Linked DNA regions of Homo sapiens: region 2 is linked to region 1. Evidence: fine-mapped expression QTL. A gene starts in region 1. The other region holds a variant in brackets. All regions are shown on one strand. Distances are between the middles of the regions. Region 1 holds the start of P2RX4 (purinergic receptor P2X 4). Region 2 overlaps P2RX4 (purinergic receptor P2X 4).

The links. PIP is the estimated chance that this variant, and not a neighbour inherited with it, causes the effect.
Region 2: its variant is fine-mapped to the expression of P2RX4 in whole blood (TOPMed, PIP above 0.99).

What each region holds. Positions count from the first base shown.
Region 1 is chr12:121,205,598-121,214,968 of GRCh38, forward strand. It overlaps P2RX4 (purinergic receptor P2X 4), which reads left to right and starts at 4,532. Exons shown (of 12, transcript NM_002560.3): 1 at 4,532-4,701. The coding sequence starts at 4,568. LOC105370032 (a long non-coding RNA gene) reads right to left here and starts at 4,475. Exons shown (of 4, transcript XR_001749352.3): 1 at 4,252-4,475. RefSeq lists a silencer at 4,238-4,977 and an enhancer at 5,308-5,357.
Region 2 is chr12:121,232,373-121,241,743 of GRCh38, forward strand. It overlaps P2RX4 (purinergic receptor P2X 4), which reads left to right. Exons shown (of 12, transcript NM_002560.3): 9 at 42-135; 10 at 239-304; 11 at 625-720; 12 at 1,151-1,734. The coding sequence ends at 1,177. CAMKK2 (calcium/calmodulin dependent protein kinase kinase 2) reads right to left here. Exons shown (of 17, transcript NM_001270485.2): 17 at 5,320-8,497. The coding sequence ends at 8,327. Among named protein-coding and RNA genes, the nearest start is that of P2RX4, 27 kb to the left of the region's middle. RefSeq lists an enhancer at 1,370-1,997 and a silencer at 8,394-8,473. The variant G/A (reference allele first, on the strand shown) is at 5,093.

The DNA of each region.
Region 1 (9,371 bases):
TGTTTAACATTTTGAGGAACTGCTGTTTTCCAAAGCAGCTGGCCCATTTTACATTCCCACGAGTAAAAAGCAGCTGGACCATTTTACATTCCCATGAGTAATGTGTGAGGGTTCCAGTTTCTCCACATCCTTGCCAGCTTTTTGATTGTCCATCTTTTTAATTATAACCATGCTAGTGGGGAGGAAATGGTATCTCACTGTGGCTTTGATTTGTATTTCCCTAACGATAATGATATCGAGCATCTTCTTGTGTTTATTGATCTCATGTGTATATCTTCTTTGGAGAAATGTCTATTCAGATATGTTTGCCCATTTTTAAATAGGGTTGTCATGTTATTGGTGAGTTTTAAGAGTTCTTACGATATCTGAAATACTAGATCCTTAACAGATATAGGATATGTGAATATTTTATCATTCTGTGGGTTTTTCCCTTTCTTGATGGTAACTTTGAAGCACGAACTTTTCAGTTTTGACAAAGTAGTCCAATTTATCTATTTTTTTCTTTTGTTGCCTTGCTTTAGGCAACAAAATCTAAATCTAAAAAACCACTGTCTAATCCGAGGTCACAAAGATTTGCCCCTATGTTTTCATCAGAGAGATTTATAATTTTAGCTCTTATATGTATGTCTTTGATCCATTTTTAATTTTCTCTCTTTCCTTATTATTTTTATTATATTATTTTTTTTAAGACAGAGTCTCACTGTGTCACCCAGGCTGGAGGGCAGTGGCACAATATCAGCTCACTGCAGCCTCCGCCTGCTGGGCTCAAGCAATTCTCCTACCTCAACCTCCCAAGTAGCTGGGATTACAGGCATGCACTACCACACCCGGCTAACTTTTGTATTTTTAGTAGAGATGGGGCTTCACCATGTTGGTCAGGCTGGTCTCAAACTCCCGACCTCAAGTGATCCACCTACCTCAACCTCTCAAAGTGCTGGGATTACAGGTGTGAGCCACACCTGGCCAATTTATTTTTTTAAAAATTTTATGTAGCTGGGACTACAACTACAGGTGCGTGCTACCATGCCCAGCTAATTTTTGTACTTTTTGTAGAGATGGGGTTTCACCATGTTGCCCAGGCTGGTCTGGAACTCCTGAGCTCAAGTGAGCCACCCACCTCGGCCCCCCAAAGTGCTGGGATTACAGGTGTGAGCCACCGCATCCCGCCTTCTTATTTATTTTTGAGACAGGGTCTCACTCTGTCACCCAGGCTGGAGTGCAGTGGCACAATTGCAGCTCACTACAACCTTGACCTCCTAAACTCAAGTGATCCTCCTGCCTCAGCCTCCCAAGTAGCTGGGACCACAGGCATGCACCAGCATGGCTGGCTAATTTTTAAAGTATTTATAGAGATGGGGGTCTCCCTATGTTGTCCAGGCTGGTCTCAAACTCCTGGGCTCTAGCAATCCTCCCAACTTAGTCTCTCAAAGTGCTGGGATTACAGGAATGGGCCACCATGTCTGGTCAATAAAGTTATTTTTTAAAAAGAGATAATCCAAGAGCAACAGTGTAAACAAAATAACTTTTCCAAATCATTTTTTAGGATCAGCTTCTTTGGTCAGGCCTAATGATGTTACCAACTAGTAATTTATAAAAACTTGCATTTCTACATTTTTCTTAACTGACCCCATTCCAAAACACAAGCAAACCATCTAAATTCAAGATTTGTGAGGTTGGGACTAACTCATTACTATAGGGTAAGTATGAATGAAGGCTGGAAATGTGTTTTGATTGCTGCCATTATTTTTTATTTTTATTTTTTCTGAGATGGAGTTTCACTCTTGTCGCCCAGGCTGGAGTGCAATGGCGTGATCAGCTCATGGCAACCTCCACCTCCCCGGTTCAAGCAATTCTCCTGCCTCAGCCTCCTGAGTAGCTGAGATTACAGGCATGCGCCACCACGCCCAGCTAATTTTTGTATTTTTAGTAGAGACGGGGTTTCTCCATTGTTGGTCAGGCTGGTCTCGAACTCCCAATGTCAGGTGATCCACCCACCTTGGCCTGCCAAAGTGCTGGGATTAAAGGTGTAAGCCACGTGCCTGGTGTTTTTTGGGGTTTGTTTGTTTGTTTTGAGATGGAGTCTGTCACCCAGGCTGGAGTGCAGTGGCACAATTTCAGCTCACTGCAACCTCCGCCTCCCAGGTTCAAGCAATTCTTCCTGCCTCAGCCTCCCGAGTAGCTGGGATTACAGGCACCTGCCATAAGGCCCAGCTAAGTTTTTTATATTTTCAGTAGAGATGAGGTTTCACCATGTTGGCCAGGCTGGTCTCCAGCTCCTGACCTCACATGATCATCCGCCTGCCTCGGCCTCCCAAAGTGCTGCAGTTATAGGTGTGAGCCACCGTGCCCAGCCATGTTTTGATTCTTAAGGAAATGATTTTTAAGTCCCCTTCCAATGAGGATTTAGCAATGGAGTTTTCTTCTTCTACAGATAATTTGAGGCTTCCCAATTGCACCAAACTCCATTTGGGCAGATACCTCACCTGTCCACTCCATAGCCCTAGCATCAAGAAAAGTGCCAAGCACACAACAGGCACTCAGTAAATTTCTGTCAAATGAATGAATAAAATACCACCACCTTTTCCTGAGACCATTTTGGACCAAGGCTGGCATGGGCATCTCTGTTCCTCCCTCTAACTTAAGAATTCCATCTCTTAGAGGCAGATGCTGCCTGTTTTCTGCAAATTTTATTATTCACCTTTCTATATTTGGAAAAACAAGTTGGTGTGGCTTACTTAGGAATCTCATATCCAGGAAATGAGCTAAAAATGTTGTATCAAAGATTATGCATAGGATCCACAAACTAAGAAGCAAGCAGATGAGAGCGGTTAGAGACATCGTGGTATATTTTCCGGAAGAAATGGTCCATGGATTAAAAATTGTCATTATGATGAGTCTGCAGTAACACAGAAACCACGTAGTGCGAATCAGAAAATGAAAAGCACAGCCATTGACTATGATTACAAACCAAAACTTTATACCAATTACCTGTTGGAATTTATGCTGCATGAAGGCAGGATATTTTGCTTGTCCTGTTCACTGGACAGTACTTGGCATAAAGGATGTGCTTATGAATATTTTCTGGGAAACTAAATATAACATTCACCTGTGAAAACACATCTGGGCCAGGCGCAGTGGCTCACGCCTGTAATCCCAACACTTTGGGAGCCCGAGGCGGGTGGATCATGGGAGGTCAGGAGCTGGAGATCAGCCTGGCCAACATGGTGAAAACCTGTCTCTAATAAAAATACAAAAATTAGCTGGGCGTGGTGGCGGGCACTTGTAATCCCAGCTACTCAAGAGGCTGAGGCAGGAGAATTGCTTGAACCTGGGAGGCGGAGGTTACAGTGAGCCGAGATCGCGCCACTGCACTCCAGACTGGACAAGAGTGAAACTCCGTCTCAAAAAAAAAAAGAAAAAGAAAAAGAAAAAACGTATCTGAAGGGAATGAACAAATACACATGCGGAAAATTGTATTCATGGGGTAGAACGGTGGCTGTTTCCCCCCCTTTCACTATTTTCTCTCCTAAAGTTGTGATAGCATTTTCTCAGTGGAAAGGATGACCACAGAATTATCTCCCCTGGGCTGCAACTAAGGAAGTATTTGGAGTGAGAATGCGACCAGGCTTCAAATCCAGGAGGGGTATTTTACAGGGCGTGTGGCTCTCACCCAGGGCTCACAGGACACCTGATATTTAGGCTGTTCCCCAAGAGGCTAAGGACAGCGCGGCCCCAGCTCCCCCAACCACAGCTGCCCAAGTTTAGGAGCCCGCACTCGTGAGCGATGGCTACTCCGCACAGCCCCGGGGTCCTCTACGGAAATCCCTGGCACCTATCAGTACCCCTAAGGGAGGTCGCTCGTTACCCCTCACTTGAACTCTGTCCCAAATGGGAGGTCACTCTCTCTTCGCGGACCCCATCTTCCCCGAAAGGGTCTCTTGTTCTCTCTGGCCCTCCTGAGAAGGTCATTACTCCCCAACTCGCCTTTTTTGTTGTTTTTTGGTTTCTGGTTTATTGAGGCAGGGTCTCGCTTCATCTCCCAGACTGGAGTGCAGTGGCGCGATCACAGCTCACACGGCAGCCTCTACCTCCTGGGCTCAAGCGATCCTCTCACCTCAGCCTCCCTGGGACTACAGGCGAGCGCCACTACGCCCGCTTTTTTTTTTTTTTTTTTTTTTTTTTTGTATTTTTGATAGAGACGAGGTCTCGCTATGTTGTCCAGGCTGGTCTCTAACTCAAGATTCCTCTCACCTCGGCCTCCGCAAGTGCTGGGATGACAGGTGTGAGCCACCGCCCCCGGCCCCTCGCCCGCCTTTTGAAGGAGCCTTTCGTCCTCAAGGGCGAGGCCACTCCCCCCCCGCGAGTTCCATGCCCCCTAGAGGGTCATCGTTCCCGACGGGGAGGTGGCGCCCTCCCCCGGGCCCCGGGCCCCGACCGCCCGTGCTGCCTCCTTCCGGGCCCTCCTCCGCGATGACGGCGCCGCCAGCAGGCCAGGCGGACTGGGCGGGGCTCCGAGCGGGGACTGGGACCCAGACCGACTAGGGGACTGGGAGCGGGCGGCGCGGCCATGGCGGGCTGCTGCGCCGCGCTGGCGGCCTTCCTGTTCGAGTACGACACGCCGCGCATCGTGCTCATCCGCAGCCGCAAAGTGGGGCTCATGAACCGCGCCGTGCAACTGCTCATCCTGGCCTACGTCATCGGGTGAGCGTGGGGCCGCGCGGGGGGCGCGGCGGGTGCTGCCCTCGCGTCCGCGCCGTGCGGCGGCTCATCCTGGCCTCGGTCACCTGGGCGAGTCCGGGAGCGGCGAGCCGAGGCGGTGACACCTTCCCTGGGCCCCAGCCGCCGCGCCGGGGCCCCGGGGGCGGGAGGCTGCTTGCTGCTGTTTTAAAACCACAGCCTGGGCCAGGCGCGGTGGCGCAAGCCTGTAATCCGAGCACTTTGGGAGCCCGAGGCGGGACCATCGCCTGAGCCCAGGAGTTCGAAACCAATTTGGGCAACATCGTGGGACCCCGTCTCTGCAAAAAATTAAAAATCATCCGGGCCTGGTGGCGCGCGCCTGGGGTCCCAGCTACTCAGGAGGCTGAGGTGGGAGGATCGCTTGAGCCCAAGAGGCTGAGGCTGCAGTGAGCTATGATCACACCACTTAACTCGAGCCTGGGAGACAGTCCGAGACCCGTCTGTTTACAAAATAAATAAAGGCAAAGCCTGGCTAGGCTGTTACCCTCTCCTGCCTGACCCCCCATAGTGCCCCTTGGCTGTAGGGGCTTCGCCCTGAACGTCTCAATCTTCGCTCTCCACTTCCCATCCTGCTGATTTGCTGACAAAACCAAAGCTTGGAATTTCCGCTTGGTTCCTTCTGGGTGGGTGGCTTTTGGTCATTTCTTTTGATCACTATGCGGTGTCACTATGTGGTAGTAGCGAGGTCAGACTGTAGCGAGTGTTTAAAGTTTGCTTCCTTTGTTTTCTGGGCTTGTGGGGCTTTTTGTGGTACCTGCCCTAGCCTAGTCAGTCATTCCCCATGCTGCCCCCTTAGGCTAGAGATGCCCTACCGCCCTCAGGCCTCGCTGAATGTGCCATTGTACTTGAAGGCACCTGTTACTTTTTTAATTTTTTTATTTTTTTGAGACGGAATTTCTCTCTTGTCGCCCGGGCTGGAGTGCAATGGCACGATCTCGGCTCACTGCAACCTCTGCCTCCCGGGTTCAAGCAATTCTCCTGTCTCAGTCTCCTGAGTGGCTGGGATTACAAGTGCCCGCCACCACGCCCGGCCAATTTTTGTATTTTTTAGTAGAGACGGGGTTTCAGGCTGGTCCTGAACTGACCTCAGGTGATCCGCCCACCTCAGCCTCCCAAAATGCTGGGATTACAGGCGTGAGCCCCCACGCGGGGCTGGCACCTGTTACAATTGAATACAACGCGAGAGAGAAGATGATAATTACCTTGCCACCTGGGGCCACTTTAAAGGCTTACCTGGGGTGTTCTGGTGTCTACAGCTGCTGGGCTGACACGTATTGCCTAGTGCAGTGGTCTCCAAACTGCACATTGGAACCATCTGGAAATCTTTGGCTCCCATCCCCAGACCCTTTTTTATTTTTTTGATGGAGTCTCCCTCTGTCGCCCAGGCTGGAGTGCAGTGGTGCAATCTTGGCTCGCTGCAACCTCCACCTCCCTGGTTCAAGCGATTCTCCTGCCTCAGCCTCCTGAGTAGCTGGGATTACAGGCACCCACCACCATGCCCGGCTAATTTTTGTATTTTTAGTAGGGACAGGGTTTCGCCATGTTGGCCAGGCTGGTCTCGAACTCCTGGCCTCAGGTGATCCACCCGCCGCAGCCTCCCAGAGTGCTGGGATTACAGGCGTGAGCCACCGCGCCCAGACGCATCCCCAGACCTTCTGATTTAATTGCTGCAGAGTATGATCGGCTGCCCAGGTGATTCTCATGTTCAGCAACGTTTCGGAACCAATGAACTGTGTTTCCCAAGTTTACCTGATCATGGAAGACTCATCTGAGGAATTGTTTAAAAGTAACAGATCCCCCCGTCTTTGGGGTGAGGTTTGGAATCTTAACACTGCCCAAGGGAAGCCCAAGCAGGTTTGGCTTCCAATATCTGTCAGCAGCAGCAGTAGATACAGACAGTATTCAAGAGGATGGCTTTCCAGGTGCAGACTCAACATCAGAACCACCTGGCCCACACCCAGATTTGGACTCATTGGCTCACACCTGTAGTCCCAGTGCTTTGGGAAGCCAAGGTGGGAGGATTGCTTGAGGCCAGGAGCTCAAGACCAGCCTGGACACAAGACCAGCCTGGACAACATAGCGAGACCCCATCTCTAAGAGAAAAATAAAGTTTAAAATGGTAAATTGTACTGATGGAGCAGTGCAAAAAAAAGAATTTTTTTTTTTTTTTTTTCTGAACACGGTGGCTCATGCCTATAATCTCAGCACTTTGGGAGGCCGAGGCGGGTGGATCACCTGAGGTCAGGAGTTCGAGACCAGCCTGGCCAACATGGTAAAACCCCGTCTCTACTAAAAGTACAAAAAATTAGCCAGGCCTAGTGGCTAATGCCTGTAATCCCGGCTACATGGGAGGCTGAGGCAGGAGAATCGTTTGAATCCAGGAGGCGGAGGTTGCAGTGAGCCCAGATTGCGCCACTGCACTCCAGCCTGGGCAACAAGAGCAAAACTCCATCTCAAATATATATATATATATATATATATATATATATATTTTTTTTTTTTTTTTGGAGACTCACTGCTAGCCAGTTAACTGAACTCACATCCCTGGTTGGACCTGAAGCATTTGGGGGCAGGAGCTCCCCTGCAGCTTTTTGCTTTTGGCGTTTGCTGCTAGTGGGAGGATCAGTGCACATCTACCTTAGGGTACCTGTAAAATTACAACTGCGGAAAATATCCATAGTGGTGTTGCACTGTATGGTAGCCACTAGTAACTTGCACCTGTTGAACACTTAACCGTTCCTACTCTACACTGAGATGTGCTATAACCTTAAAATACACACTGGATTTCAAAGACATAGTACAGAAAAAGAGGCTGGGCACAGTGGCTCATGCCTGAAATCACAGTACTTTGGGAGGCTGAGGTGGGAAGATCGCTTGAGCTCAAGAGTTTGAGACAAACCTGGGCAACATAGCGAGACCTTGCCTCTACAAAAAAATACAAAAATTAGCCTGGCATGGTGGCACACGCCTATAGGCCTACCTATTTGGGAGGTTGAGGCAGAAGGACTGCTTGAACCTGGGAGGTTGAGGCCACAGAGAGCTGTGATCACACCACCCTCCAGCCTGGGCAACAGAGCAAGACACTGTCTCAAAAAAACAAAGAGTACCACTATCACATGAAAACATTTTTTATTGATGACATGTTAAAATATTTTGGATATATTGGGTTACACAGAATATATCATTACAATTAATTTTTCCTGTCTCTTTTTTCTTTTTTTCTTTTTAAACGGCGCCTTGCTTTGTCACCCAGACTGGAGTGCAATGCACTGCAACCTCTGCCTCCCAGGCTCAAGTGATTCTACCATCTCAGCCTCTGGAATTATGGGACTACAGGTGCACACCACCATGACTGGCTAATTATTGTGTTTTTGTTTGTTTGTTTGTACAGATGAGAAATCTCATCTCTACAATCATGAGGTTTCCATGTTGCCCAGGCTGGTCTCGAACTCCTGAGCTCTAGCAATCTGTCTGCCTCGGCCTCCCAAAGTGCTGGGATTACAGGCATGAGCCACCGTGCCCAGCCCTTTCTATTTCTTTTTACTTTTTGACATGGCTACTAGAAACTTTTAAATTACAGGGTCTTGCCCTGTGGTAGCTCACGCCTGTAATCCCAATACTTTGGGAGGCTGAGGCAAGTGGATCCCTTGAGCTTAGGAATTTTGAGACCAGCCTGGGCAACGTAGTGAAACCCCATCTCTACCAAAAATACGAAAAATTAGCTTGGCATAGTGGCGCACACCTGTGGACCCAGCTACTTGGGAGGCTGAGGTGGGAGGATTGCTGTAGCCTGGGAGGCGGAGGTTGCAGTGAGCCAAGATTGTGCCACTGCACTTCAGCCTGGGCGACAGAGCGAGAGCCTGTCTCAAAAAAAAAAATATGTGGCTCGCGTTATGTTTTTATGGGACAGCGCAGCTCTGTAGGATTCCTTATGACGCATTCACTATCTCGGTCATGAGAATCTTTAAAGCAGTAAATGCTTTGCTTTTGTCCGTCTTGCTATAATCAAAACTGACTCAGGACCTGCATTAAGGCTCTTTTTTTTTTTAACCTCATCTCTTAACTTTTTGATGCAACTCATCTTAGTGAAATTGTGGTCTCCTCCTACAGCAACCCTCCCTCAAAAAAAGACCGAACACGCAATTCTCATCTATCTAACTCTGTTAACAATCATATGAGGAGGAAATAATCACATGATAATGAGTGGCATGAAACCCTGTGTCTCTAAATTAAGCAACTCACTGTACTTGATGAGTACATCAGTCTTCCTGCCCCAAGCTTTTGTGTGTCAGACTGGAATTAAATGGAAGCTTACACTGCAGCTGAATTCCTAGAAGCCCTGGACTTGTCAGGGGAAAAGCCCATGGGGGGAAAGCCCATCTCTAGGCTGGGCAATGAACTTGGAGACTGCTCGATCACACACACTCATAAGTAACAAAACCATTAATTTCTTTTCTTTTTTTTGGTGGAGGGACAGAGTCTCACTCTTGCCCAGGCTGGAGTGCAGTGGCATGATCTCAGCCCACTGCAATCTCCACCTCCCGGGTTCAAGTGATTCTCCTGCCTCAGCCTCCCGAGTATGTGGGACTACAGGCACCCACCACCACACCCAGCTAATTTTGTGTATTTTTAGT
Region 2 (9,371 bases), 27 kb after region 1:
GCCCCAGCCATCTCCCCCTGATCCATCCTCCTTCCCCTCAGGTTTGCCAAGTACTACAGAGACCTGGCTGGCAACGAGCAGCGCACGCTCATCAAGGCCTATGGCATCCGCTTCGACATCATTGTGTTTGGGAAGGTAGCTCGCCGCCACTGGCTCCCCTCCGTCACTCCCTGCAGGGACAAGGGGCCTCTCCCTGCCCCTGCAGAAACACTTTTTTTCTTTTTCGGTGTCTTGGCAGGCAGGGAAATTTGACATCATCCCCACTATGATCAACATCGGCTCTGGCCTGGCACTGCTAGGCATGGTGAGTGGTTTAGGCCCTGCCTTCACCCTCACGGTGAGGTGAGACCCTGGGCTGGGGTCCTGGTCCTGGCCCTAGGCCCTAGACCTCAGATGTGTTTCTAAACTTGACCCTCCTACCTTCTTTCCCTTGGCCCCCAGCCCTCCTCCCACCTTCCCTTCTCCAAGACCACCCCCCTCAGGTCCCAGCCTTCTCCCAAGAGATGGGAGTGCCTTTCCATTCCGGTAAAGATTCCAGGCTTCTCAGGAAGGGGCACGCAAAGAATAAGATGGGTTGATGGGTTGCAAGCATCCTGGCTCACTCTCACCCTATGCTAAACTCAGGCGACCGTGCTGTGTGACATCATAGTCCTCTACTGCATGAAGAAAAGACTCTACTATCGGGAGAAGAAATATAAATATGTGGAAGATTACGAGCAGGTAGGCCCCTCCTGGCCCCCAGCAGGCACAGGCCTCTCATCTCTTGGGTGTGGGAGCCCTGGGCGTGGGCCTGTCTGGGGAGGCCCTTCTGCAGAGGCTGGCACCAGTGTGGCGTGGTGTCCCCGTTAACCCGGGCAGTCCTGCCACTCTCAGCAGCTGCTCCATCCCTAGGCCCCTGTACTAGATTGACTCTTTAAACCCAGCCTCGTTTCAATGAGCGACATCTCAGGTTGGTGATGATAATGCATGCTCTGAGAATGCCTGTGGGCACACACTACTTCAGTGCACCTTGCGGAACAGGAAGGGTTGGGTTCCAGGCCTGGGACCAACTTGAGAACCCCTGGCGGTGAAGTCCCAGGAGCGCACCTCCCTCCCGCCTGCCACAAGGGGTCCCAGGGGCACCTTGATCTGCTTGTGTCCTTCTTTGCAGGGTCTTGCTAGTGAGCTGGACCAGTGAGGCCTACCCCACACCTGGGCTCTCCACAGCCCCATCAAAGAACAGAGAGGAGGAGGAGGGAGAAATGGCCACCACATCACCCCAGAGAAATTTCTGGAATCTGATTGAGTCTCCACTCCACAAGCACTCAGGGTTCCCCAGCAGCTCCTGTGTGTTGTGTGCAGGATCTGTTTGCCCACTCGGCCCAGGAGGTCAGCAGTCTGTTCTTGGCTGGGTCAACTCTGCTTTTCCCGCAACCTGGGGTTGTCGGGGGAGCGCTGGCCCGACGCAGTGGCACTGCTGTGGCTTTCAGGGCTGGAGCTGGCTTTGCTCAGAAGCCTCCTGTCTCCAGCTCTCTCCAGGACAGGCCCAGTCCTCTGAGGCACGGCGGCTCTGTTCAAGCACTTTATGCGGCAGGGGAGGCCGCCTGGCTGCAGTCACTAGACTTGTAGCAGGCCTGGGCTGCAGGCTTCCCCCCGACCATTCCCTGCAGCCATGCGGCAGAGCTGGCATTTCTCCTCAGAGAAGCGCTGTGCTAAGGTGATCGAGGACCAGACATTAAAGCGTGATTTTCTTAATCCCTGTCTGTTGTCTCATAGCATGTGCTAGAACTTTCCTTCCTACCCTTTTACGACAACCAGTAAATCCACTATTCCGGCTCACTGTGCTCAGAAAAGGTCCATGGGATGGTCTGTTTCTGGCACTTATGCACATTTTCCCCTACTTCTTTATTTATTTATTTTATTTTTGAGGCAGAGTCTCACTCTGTCGCCCAGGCTGGAGCGCAGTGGTGCAATCTCGGCTCATTGCAACCTCTGCCTCCCGGGTTCAAGCGATTCTCCTGCCTCAGCCTCCCGAGTAGCTGGGATTACAGGTGCATGCCACCATGCCCGGCTAATTTTTGTATTTTTAGTAGAGACAGGGTTTCACCACATTGGCCAGCCAGGCTGGTCTCGAACTCCTGACCTCAAATGATCCATCTGCCTTAGCCTCTCAAAGTGATTGGATTACAGGTGTGCGCCACCACACCTGGCCTATTTATTTTTTTTATTACCCAGGCTGGAGTGCAGTGGCGCAATCACTGCTCACTGCAGTCTCCACCTCCTGGGCTTAAGCGATCCTCCTACCTCAGCCTCCCATAGTGCTGGGATTACAAGCATGAGCCACTGCACCCAGCTGCCTACTTTTTAAAGCCTAATAATTTGTCATTAGCTTGTCTTCCTGCACAGTTCACAGGACACTTTTTCTCTAGTGACATCTTACCTGTGCCTCCATTTTGACATAAAATTACAATTCTATGCTGTGGGTAACACAATTTTTGGTAACATGGAAGTGGCTTCCTCTCCCTTCCCTGTTTGCTTCCCAAAAGTCTCCAACCAAAAGCAGCAGCACGCATACCTAGCTCCGCACAGGTTCGAAATGTTCATGAAGCTATTTCCAGCTGCAGCTTCACACCAACTAAATGTTTGTGTTTTTTTGTTTTTGAGACAGAGTCTTGCCCTATTGCCCAGGCTGGAGTGCAGTGGCATGATCTCGGCTCACTGCAACCTCTGCCTCCTGGGTTCAAGCAATTCTCCTGCCTCAGCCTCCCAAGTAGCTGGGATTACAGGCATCTGCCACCACACCCAGCTAATTTTTGTATTTTTAGTAGAGACAGAGGTTCACCATGTTGGCCAGGCTGGTCTGGAACTCCTGACCTCATGATCCACCGCCTCAGCCTCCCAAAGTGCTGGGATTACAGGCGTGAGCCACTGCACCCAGCCACACACCAGCTGAATTCTGCATCAGGTATTCAGAATCCCCCTAGAGGAAGCAGTTTGCCCTTCGCCTCTGCCATGAATTCACTTCCAAGTACTGAGAGGAACCATTATTTTACAAATACTCTGCTTCTGCTGGATAAATGGCCAACCTGGGCTTTTCTTGCTTTTGGAAAAAAAAAAAAAAGTTTACCAACTCCCTTTATTGAAGCTCTGGTTCATGCTGCCTTTTAAAAAAAAATGCTTGTTGCCTGTAATCCCAGGACTTTGGGAGGCCAAGGTGGATCACTTAAGCGTAGGCATTCAAGACCAGCCCAGTCAACATGGTGAGACCCTATCTCTACAAAAAATTAAATTAGCCGGGTGTGGCGGTATATATCTGTAGTCCCAGCTACTTGGGTGGCTGAGGCCGGAGGATCACTTGAGCCCAGGAGGTTGAGGCTGCAGTGAGCTATGATGGTGCCACTGTACTCCAGCCTGGGCACCAAAGTGAGACCCTGTCTGAAAAAATAAAAAGTGCTTGCTTAGGCACATGGGTCAAATGAAGCTGGAATGTTTAGGAATGGTGATATGGGCTGAATGTGTCTACCAAAATTCACATTTTGGAAACTTCATCCCCAAGGCAACCTTATTGGGAGGTGAAGCCTTGGGGAGGTGACTGAGTCAGGATTGCGCTGCCCTCATGAATGGGGTTGGTGCCCTATACGAGGGCTAGAGAGGGAGCTCATCCCCCGTCTGCCTTGCCACTGTCTGCCACGCGAGGACAAGTGTTCCTCCCTCCAAAGGATGCGGCACCAAGGCACCCTCTTGGAAGCAGAGAGCAGCCCTCACCAGATACCAAACCTGCCAGCACCTTGATCTTGAACTTCCTGGCCTCCAGAAATGTGAGAAATCAATTATTGTTCTTTATAAATTACCCAGTCTTAGGTCCCTGTAACAGCAGCACAAAACAGACTTAAGGGCAATGGGTGTGTTTATGATCTTGCTCGTCAAGGAGTGATGGTCACTGGCTGTCTTCCGAAGTGGGGGAGATGCTGTTTAGCCTCTTTTCTAAAACAAATGTGAAAGCAAGCCAGTGTTGGGGTGAGGGGCGGGTGTGTTTCTAGATGCCATGAACACCAGCAGGAGGCTGGGTGTGGTGATGCGCGCCTGTCATCCCAGCACTTTGGGAGGCTGAGGCAGGAGGATTACTTGGTCCAAGAGTTTGAGACCAGCCTGGGCAACAGGTAGTGAGACCTCATCCCTACAAATAATTTAAAAATTAGCCAGGCATGGTGGTGCACATCTGTAGTCCCAGCAACTCGGGAGGCTGAGGTGGGAGGACTGCTTGAGTCCAGGAGTTTGAGACCAGGCCTGGGTAATATAGTGAGATTCTGTCTCTATAAAAAATTTAAGAATTATCTGGGTGTGGGGGCTGGTGTGGTGGTGGGCCCCTGTGGTCCCAGCTACTTTGGAACCCAAAGTGGATGGATCACTTAAGCCTGAGAGGTGGAGATTGCAGTGAGCCGAGACTGCCACTGCACTCCAGGCTGGGTGACAGAACGAGACCCTGTCTCAAAAAAGAAAACCAGAAGGGTTTTGCTGGCAAATTCTAACCCTTGGACAACTGACTTAACTTTCTGGAGCCTCACCTCACAGACGATGATCCATAAAACGAGGTTAATCCCTACCTCGTGGGGTAAAGTGTCATGTGGCATACCAGGCCATAGTTCAGTGTGACTGAGACTGCTCGGGGGCTGCCCACCTGTCTGGCCTCCACCAGAATCTTGCAATTACCTGCCTGCGAAAGCAGTGCTGCTCAAACTTCAGCACACGGACGAGTCACCTGGGGAGCAGGTTTAAGCCAAGCCTGGGTATCTGCATTTATTTTTTTCTTTTAATTTTTGAAACAGGGTCTCGCCCTGTTGCCCAGGCTGGTGTGCAGTGGCATGATCACAGCTCACTGCAGCCTTGACCTCCAGGGTTCACGTAATCCCCCCACCTCAGCCTCCTGAGTAGCTGTGGGACCATAGGCATGCACCACCACACTCAATTAATTTTTTAATTTTTTTTTTTTTTTTTAAGAGATGGGGTCTTGCCATGTTGTCCAGGCTGGTCTCAAACTCCTAGGCTCAAGCAATCCTCCCACCTTGGCCTCCCAAAGTGCTGGGATTGCAGGTGTGAGCCACCGTGCCCGGCC[G/A]GCACCTGCGTTTCTAACCCACTCACAGGTGACACTGGCGCTACTGGTCTGGGAGCCACACTGAGTAGCAAGGTCCTAGGACATGCTCTAAATTAGAGATTTGCTGAATACATTAGCCTTGACTTGGGCATCTGACCTCGCTGTCAGCCTGAGGAAGGAATACAGACATCAGGGCAGGCGGCCTAAATAAACAATCACCAATACAAACCTCCCCAAGAGGCCCAGGCTTGGCACCATTTTGCTGTCTGTTTATTTCAACTGTACAGAGAAGCTTAAACACCTGTGGAAAAACACGAAAGGCTTAGTTGTCTCTTAAGTTCATGTACTTTTTAGTGATAAATACACAGTATTTAACTTTATACACCTGATAAAAGGAAAATGCATAGTAGAAAGGGTCGGGAATGAAACAGAAGCATCGGGCATTGAATCGATCACAGAGTAGAAAAATCTGCAGTCCCCAGAAACTCGGCCTCCAGCTGGAGAGGGGAACCAGCGTACCCTGAAACTTCCCTAGCACCTTGGAAGCAAGTGGAGGTCATGGTTCTTCCACTCGGCAACGTGAAGCTCCCCGCTGGAAGACAAGTGAGAGCGACAGGCCAGGCCTGTGTGTCCACCTGCACAGGCATTCTCCTTGTTCCAGAAAGGCTCTGAGGACGGAAGACCTGCCTCTCAGGAAAGGCCAGACCAGTAGGGAGAGGCCTCCGCAGCCCCAAGTGTCAACAAGGGGCTCAATAAGGCTTTCTGGGAGCCACTGGCAGCTGGTGGGATGGAAGGGGGAGGTGGAAAAGGGCAGAGGAAATGGGAAGTGGATGGAGGGTTTGTGCTTCCTTCGAGGCCACAAGTGCAGGCCACAGGTTGCTTACACCAAATTGGTCCCACAGATGAGCTAGCAATGGAAGAAATTATGGGCGTCCTCTTTGCCCACTGGAAGAGCTGCTCATAACAGCACCTCCTTTCCTGACAGAGCTGGCTTTTGAAAAATCAATGTGCTCCAAGAGTGGCAGCTCAAATGCTCTGTGTTTACAGCCATCTTGGCTTATCCTTTTCATGTGGGGCAGGTCCTTTCCACAGCTTTCTTTGGTGTTTCTTCATTAAAAGAAAAAAAAAAAGTCATCAATGTGGGTCTCCCCCACCCCACTGCCCCCACAGCTGGGTGCTGCCTGATTGCTGGCATTCCCTGGAAGAAATCTTAGATGGAAGGTTCCGTGGTGGGGAGAAATGGCATTGTCTGATGCAGCTGTGTAAACAAGAGAAGCCCTGCAGAAGCTCTAAGCACTGCTGCCCCCTGGGCCAGCCACCAGGCCAGGCCAGAGCCCACACAAGCAGGCTGGGCCTAAGACTAGGGACCCGCTGGCTTTAACCTCTGCAAGGTGCTTATTGCAAACTAACCAAGCCCCATCTGGTGCCAGAAGGGGTGGAGCTATTGAGTCCTCTCCCCATAAACATAAAGCCAGGAGGGCAAGAGGAAGTGCTGGGTTACAAAGACCCAGCAAGCAGGCCAGACGACCCTCTCTAGACTACCTGTCCTTTGCTCTTCAAAACCAGCATTCCCTAATTCTGAACTGCTTATAAGATAGCAAAACAAGTCTGGCTAAACTACAGTCAAGAGCTTAGGATCTATGGAAGCCAAGAAGGCCCAGGGCTCCATGAATGGGCTGGGCAGGGGCACGAGGCCTTGCCTTTGTCTGAGAAGTCCTCACACCACAGCTGATCAGATGGAAACAATGGGGAAGCAGAGTTTCCCGGTGCCGTCTTTCCCCAGCCCAGATTCCACCAAGCGCTGGAAAGCAGAGCTGGGAATCTCCCAAGGCAGAGTCCTTCCAGCTTTCCTCCCCCTCAACTTCACACTCCCCTACCTGTGGCTCTGGAAGGAGTCACACTTGAACCTCAACCAAACTTCCCAATATCAGTTGGAAGTCAAAAAGATGAACCCTTTCTTTCTGGACTTTTAGCTACAAAGGGGAACTTCCTGTGCCAAGCCCTGGTTTCCTCATACCCCAACGAGTGCTGTGGGTTTCAACAGTCTTCTCTAAAAGGGTGCCCCAAGGTTATTGTGTGGAGTCTAGGGAAGCTCAGATCCTCAGGATGATCATTTGTGTGTTGGTCCAGTGAAAGCATTTCCCACCTGGCCCTCCAGAAACTGGGTATTTCATTGACCACAACAATCAGCTAGGATTTAAAATGAAAACAAAACCTTAGCAGTCTTTAGAATATACAGGTTATGAACTAGCTAAGCTGCTAATATATATACAGGCGGGCATAGGTTTCATCGGCTCTAACTGATCACATGCCTGAAGCTGTGAAATATATCCTGGAAGCTCTAAATAGTTTCTGAACTACTGTGCTCTAGAGTTCACTCTAGTTAGAGACTTGAAAAATGTTTTTGTTTAATCTTAAGCCATGTAATGTACATGGAAGCATAGGATTTCACCCTGAAGTTTTCGTAATTTGACAAAGAGATTTACCAGAGCTCGGTCAGCTATCTCAGAAACCTGCTTTGAGCAGCTGTCATGAAGAAACACGTTCAGTCTTTCAGGAGAAATGTTTCCCCACCACAGCTGCTGAATACCCTTCCAGGCTTGGAAAATCCCCTTCCAGCAGCACTTATTAAATTTCAAGCCCTTTCTGTTTTCCTGACTACAATTCTACCCATAAAAAATTTAAAAATCCTTCTTACAAATAAGTTGCATCAAAGCTCCCTGCAGCTACTGAGGGCCAGCCCTGCTCTGACTCCTTGAGACCACGGCTCTGGAAGGTGCCATGGTTTCCGGTTTGCACTAGGAGCCACATCTAGCCCCCTACTCCCTCTCAAATGCAGCAACCACCTCCATGGCCTCAGACCGCCGGAGTTTTCTGCTCGCCTTTCCACAGTTGTCAAACCCCACACACAGTCACTTGGTATATCTGACGTGGTTCTGAAAATCACAATGAAGGATTTTTGGCATAAAAACGTTTTAAAAAGCAATTGTCCCAAAATGCACGTGGGTTTGGGTCTGCAACTCCTCACACCCGCCTGTCCAGCCAGCCAGCGGCCACGGTCGACGTCATGGAGTCAAGTCCTTTTTTTTTTTTTGTCCCCTTTAAAACAACAAAGGAAAAAACAAATAACCAGAGATGACGATCGAGGCTCTACACACGTGCTGGGTTTCCGTAGGACATGCTGCTATGGAAACGCGGTGCAGCAGCCCCCCAGAGGCGACGCGGCGCGCATGCGAGGTCGAGCGATCCAGGCAGCTACTCGGGCTCCATGGCCTCCTCCGGCCGCAGTGGATGCATGCGTGCGGGGGAGCCGGGGGCGGGGGCCCAGCAACTTTCCACGCAGGGACTGCCTCTCACAAGAGCACTTCCTCCTCCCCCACGGGGGGCGGGTCGGTGCCCTGGAGGTTGTCTTCGCTGCCTTGCTTCCTGCTCACCGAACAGAAAACCAACATTAAGACTCTGAGAAATGCCAGCGAGGCCCTGAGCCAGCTGCTCCCACATCTGGGCCCCCTGCCCAAGTGGGCCGTCGCGCACCCCCTGGAACGTGATCTACGTAACCCAGTCTTTGAGATCCTCTCCCCTTTTCCTTGCTCACATAAATTTTTCAAAGGAGACTTTGCACGCAGCCCCTCTGTAAATGAAAGACCAGCATCATTTGCCAAAAATAGCAAGGACCCGTACAACAGTTCCAAAACTATGTAACACCAAAATTCACTGCACAAATCCCAAGTAGAAGGCACCCCCCACCCCACGGCGCCTGTCATACCAGGTTTTTAGGTACTTCGATCCCCCACTTAGGCTATGAGCCCTTACAGGGAAGGGACTGTGACGCTTGTCCTCAGTCACCAGATGTTGAGTTCCTTGTGTGTGGGGGTGATCAGAGCCTCCCCTGCCTGGCCTGGCACACAGCTGGCCCTCAAGAAAGGGCAGATGACAACTGCTCCAGGGATCCTCCCGCCTCAGCCCTCCTGCAGCCAGCCCTGAGGGAGGAGCACCTCAGACAGAAGAGGAGGCCCCTTCCCTCTTGGAAGTGGGAGGAGGAGAGCCCTTGTTTCCCTGAAGAGCCCAGGCTGGAGCCGCCGGTGTGACAGCGTGGATGGCGTGACAGGTGCGAGGGGAATCCCCGAGCCTATCCCCTCACCACCATCACACAGCTCCCCTGTTCTTAGGGAGGTCACTGGGCATGCCACATGGGTTACTGTCTGTCCTTCCCCCACAACAATCCGTGTCTCCTGTCCAGGAGGGAGACTGTCCTTACACAAGGGAAAGGAAGCGTGATGTCTGGCTTGCTATGTTTCTG